Regions from separate parts of the Homo sapiens genome. Here region 2 is linked to region 1. The links come from fine-mapping of genetic effects on gene expression. Tissue or cell type: blood mononuclear cells. Region 1 holds a variant in brackets; the other region holds the start of a gene. All regions are shown on one strand. Distances are from middle to middle.

Region 1 (2,762 bases):
CTCTGTCTTTAACAGTCTTTTAGAACCAATAGGCTACGGGGCAGCACCTGTTCTGATCTTTAGCACCCATACTCACCCTGAATCTGTACAAAGCTTCTAAATAAGTATGTGAAGATACTTTATTATTTCCCCCATTCATTTCTGATTATCTGAATATTTGTCTTAGAATAAACATGGAGGAAACAAACCAATAATTAATTTGGATGAGCTTTCCCAAATCATCAACTCCTTGGGACCAGGATTTTTTTGTAGAAATGCTTTGGAAAGCCCAATTTTATATGAAGAATTTTAAAATAAAAATATCTCTCAGAAGAGAACCAAAAAAGTGAAAGAAAAATAAAATACATACAAATGGGAAGATAAATAGAGTCAGAGACACATTGTCTGGCCCATCTAGAAATTTAATCTAAGAAGAGGTGCTTGATGCATGGAAAGGCTTTTGAAGGTGGCAAGAATGATAAGGACAAATACATACTTTGAAAAAATATGATTTAAGTGGTTAAACCCTGGCTATGTTAAGGCATAAGATCAATAGATGTGCTAGTGTATAAATGACATCAATCGCCACCATTTATTGGTGTCTAGTTTGAGTTAGCAGACACTACATCAAGCACATTATCTTTGCCCTCATAGCAAACCTCTTATAGATAGTTCTTATTTTCACTTTACAGAGGAGGAGGCTGAAGCTAGAAGGGAATTAAACAACTTGGCCCAAGTTTCAAGGCTGGAAAATGGAAGTAGCCCTTTCCCTATACCACACAAGCACTCTGGGAGCTGCAGGTAGAAAAGTGTACAAAGGATATTCTCTGGGTAATTGCATTACAGTCATGACCTGAGCAGGGTTTAGCTGGTAGCTTTACCCCAAATCAGGTAAGAGGCATGGACAAAAGATATTCGCGTGCAATTTTAAATATTATGACATTTGTATGTGATTTTGAATATGGTCCTCTTTGCAATTAATTTTCCTAATAGTAAAATACTCACATTATTTATTAATTCATATAACTAGTCTCTTTCTCCCCACAAAGACTAAGGTGCATACAATATTTTCGTTTTAGAAGAAGACAACTGAATAAAAAGAAAATAAAGGTAAAAAAAATAAGACGTAGCTGTTAACATAGTTCATACACAAAATGCATGTTGCAAAGGCCTGTGAACTTTGGCCTTGAGTTTTCTGGACAGCCCATGAGATAAAGAAAATGAGATCCGGCCGGGTGCGGTGGCTCACGCCTGTAATCCCAACACTTTGGGAGGCCAAGGTGGGCAGATCACCTGAGGTCAGGAGTTCACGACCAGACTGGCCAACATGGTGAAACCCCATCTCTACTAAAAAATACAAAAATTAGCTGGGCGTGGTGGTGGGAGCCTGTAATCCCAGCTACTCTCGGGAGGCTGAGGCAGGAGAATTGCTTGAACCTGGGAGGCGGAGGTTGTAGTAAGCCAAGATCACGCCACTGCACTCCAGCCTGGGCGACTAAGCAAGGCTCCATCTCAAAAAAGAAAAAGAAAAAGAAAGAAAGAAGGAAGGAAGGAAGGAAAATGAAATCCGTTATATGATTTATAAGTATCCATAAAAT[G/T]AAATCAAGCCCACTGTTTCCCATACTGGGACCTCAGAGAGATTTCTCACCAGGGTCTTCATAACGGGTTATATAACACAGTAAATCATACAGCATCATGACATATCATCTTTACAGTAAATATAGTGAGACCACAGCTTGTTTCTAGTACAGCATCACTTATGTGCTATTATTCTTTCTCTAAAGTCTAACACTTTAAAGTATATGATGTGGCTTTTAAGGCCCATCATGATCTAACCCCAAATGGCTCTTTCACTCTCATTTCCTACTATATCCTTTCATGAATTCTCCTGAACAGCCTCTCTGGGCCACTCAGTCATTCCTGAGTATCTTTGATTTTTCTGTTCTTTCATCCTATTTACTCATTGTTATTCACCTTCATCTCTGACATTCAAAATACAAGTCAGGAAAGGCAGAGAGTAAGTTATACACACCTGGTGGGTGGTATATTTTGGACAGGCTTTATTAGCCTCTCCTCCAAGTTTGCACTACTATCAATACAACTTCAATCATTCATTTGTTCTGCAAATATTTATTGAACACCTATTATGTACCTGGCACTGAGGGTACAAGGGAAGCAATAAAAATTTAATACATCCCTTGCTTTATGAAACTTCCAATCTGGTGAGTGAAAAAAAAATGTTGGTTTTGTCAAAAAAGAAAAGAAAAGCGCAACTCTATGAAACACTATGAAGTCAAGATACATAGCTCCATAAGAGGGAATATTGGCGCATCCTAAAGTAGTGTGGGGAGCAGGGATGGCTTTCTTCTGGAAAAGATGTTTGATGTGAGATCTGATGAGTGAATGGACTTTATCTAAGCAAAGCTGGGAAAGGACATTCCAAGCAGAAGTAGGAGTAAGGACAAAGGCCCTGAGAACCCCAGGATCCTGCTGTGTTCTAGGACCAGGAAGAGTCCAGTGTGCCTGGCGCACAGCAGAGAAGTGGGAGAATGGTGAGAAATGAGGCTGAAGAAGTGGCAGGTACCTGGCCATGCAAGGCCTTCAAGGCCACATTAAATGATTGAAAGATTATTTATTTATTTATTTATTTATTTATTTATTTTGAGACAAAAGCTCTGTCACCCAGGCTGGAGTGCAGTGGTGTGATCTTGGCTCACTGCAACCTCCACCTCCCAGGCTCAAGTGATTCTCCTGCCTCAGCCTCCCGAGTAGCTGCGACCACA
Region 2 (2,500 bases), 56 kb before region 1:
GCAATATGCTGCGTGCTTAATTTGTGTTCAGAAAGGCCTTGCACAATCACTCAGGCTTATTTTTGCTCTAAGGACAAATGAGGAGAAGCAAGGCCTAATACAGGCTGGAACAGGTATGTCAACCTCATTAGGATGGCCTGGGGGGTCATGTCCCTGGAATCAGTGCCACACTGAACTGCAAACTAACCTGCCAACCCTGTATCTGGAAACCACTTTTGTAGGACAGCTGTTCTCTCATTCCTTTTGCTTAGATCATAAAAGTAGAGTTTTCATCCATTGGGAATTTGTGTGTTAGACGCGAAGGGAATCAGATTCTGATCCAACTTGGTCAGGAAAAAAAAAAATAAGGGCTGATTTTTCCATCCAAGTCATGTAGTCTGGTTGGAGTGCATCCCACTCAGGGACAGCTATTGTCTGGATTCACCGAGTCTCAGTCTTGCCCGGGAAAAAGGAATTTTTCGCCTCACTGCTCTGTCCGTGAGAAGAGTTGCAGAAGGTGACCATTTCTGTTTTCTGGGTGATTCTCTTTCTCTATAGAAATCCTAAAATGGAACCTTTATAGAAATTATGTTCTGTGCTTCGCTGGAGAGAGACTGGTCTTTTTAACCAGGCTCATCAAACAGTGGGCATTTTCGTTCTCCTGGATAATAAGTGTTGGTGGGTTAATGGGTCATCCTCAGGACAGAGGTCAGAAGGAAAAACACTGCAGTGTTCAAAGCTGGAGCTAGAAATGCCAGCCGTCAAAGAACACAGAACTCAGTGGACGGTGATGATGTATAGGGCGTGCACTGGCCAACCCCATCCGAGAGGTCACATCTAACCTTTATCCTCAGCAAAGCCACTGAAGGTCGCTCAATATGTGTGACCCGCAACTCTGAGGCCCTGGTGAGAAGCTGTCCAGGAAAACGCTGGTGCGTGTGCTAGAGGGTTCCTTTTCACTAAGGGAGAATTGTCTTCCAGCTCCTTGCAGACTGACATCGCAAAGTACTTTGAACGTTGAAAAGAACAAAAAAAGCAAACAGTCACACACACACAAAAAGTAGGCGGGAGGAGGGGGAAAGAAAAAGGGACAGAGAGAGAGAGAGGTATCAGCAGGGGTGGTTAGTAAAAAGGGGCCCGGAGACAGAAAACCTTTTGTTCCCGGAGTTCGTTTCATGTAGAGATTGTGAGGTGAATGGCTTTGAAACGAAATGGGTTTATGAAGGAGTTGCTAGGTCACAGGAAGCGCGACTGTCAGACTGCTTTTGTGAATTCAGTTTCTTTAAAATTTGGGTTAATCTTAAAAAGAATGTATCTCCTTTTCCTGTTCTTTCTCTTTCTGTCTTCTTTTTTGGCGGGGGCGGGAGGACAGAGTAAGGTTCAGGACGGTTCCCCACTTTCTGTTTTATTTTCCACCGTCTGATAAAGCAAAAAGAAGCGATCACATTACAAGTTCTTTGTCAGTTTTTCAGAATTAGGGGTGGGCAGGGCCTGAGCATTACCTTGTCCCACTAGCCAATGGCGGGGCGGCATGCAAATGAGGTCCGCGATCAGCCTGCCTCAGTCACAACAGTGAGCTCAGAGACTTGAGGGAGGCGCTGCGACTGACAAGCGGCTCTGCCCGGGACCTTCTCGCTTTCATCTAGCGCTGCACTCAATGGAGGGGCGGGCACCGCAGTGCTTAATGCTGTCTTAACTAGTGTAGGAAAACGGCTCAACCCACCGCTGCCGAAATGAAGTATAAGGTAAGAGAGTGCCTTTTACAGGTTACCTTGCAAGCTGAAAGCTGTGCCTGCGGGTGTGTGCTTGTGTATGCGTGTTCCTTACTGTCAGTCCCTTGTGTGTCCCGGAGAGTTCTAAGATGAGTCTCGGTCACTGAGGTTGACATGCAAGCAGACAAGCAAGCAGAGACCCGGTCTTTGAGACCCACTCCAGGGGTTCACAGTACACCCGAGTCCATCTGCTCTGAAAGTTGCCGGGGAAATACCTCGGTGAGAAGTTAAGACTTGGAGCCGCTTCACAGCAGCCACTGGAGATCAGAGGGTGTCTGACTTGAATCGCGGCAGGCATTGGCTCAAGTCTCCTTGGCTTCCCCAGGCCTGGCTTCCACTGCCCTGGGGAACTGTAATGAGAGGAATGAGGACTGCATAGTCTGTCTCAGACTGGCTCTTAGTGCAAAGTTTTCCAGACTTTGCTTTAATCGTTTGGTCTCGGAAGGAGTATGCCATATGCACTTTTGGTGGGAGAAATTAAAAGCCCAGATTACACAGCTGAGGATGGAAAATTTTGACATCCTTATGTTATATTGGATGTAGGAATAAATAAGTATGAGCCATTTCTTGAAAACATTTTTATTGGAGTTTGAATGGGGTGAGAGTGCGAAGGCTCAGGCTGGCTCATTGTGCCTGAAAGCTTACAGAGTGTCATAGTCATAGTACTTCAGCAGCATTATTTTCCAATGCATTTTACACCATTGTTTGTGGATTTTTCTTGCCAAAAGGATTTTTGACTTGCTCCGTAT

Evidence for each region. PIP is the estimated chance that this variant, and not a neighbour inherited with it, causes the effect.
Region 2: NEDD9 starts here. The variant in region 1 is fine-mapped to the expression of NEDD9 in blood mononuclear cells (TOPMed, PIP 0.94).

What each region holds. Positions count from the first base shown.
Region 1 is chr6:11,175,287-11,178,048 of GRCh38, reverse strand. No RefSeq gene overlaps it. Among named protein-coding and RNA genes, the nearest start is that of NEDD9, 56 kb to the left of the region's middle. The variant G/T (reference allele first, on the strand shown) is at 1,578.
Region 2 is chr6:11,231,728-11,234,227 of GRCh38, reverse strand. It overlaps NEDD9 (neural precursor cell expressed, developmentally down-regulated 9), which reads left to right and starts at 1,560. Exons shown (of 7, transcript NM_006403.4): 1 at 1,560-1,724. The coding sequence starts at 1,713. RefSeq lists silencers at 1,473-1,522, 2,003-2,052.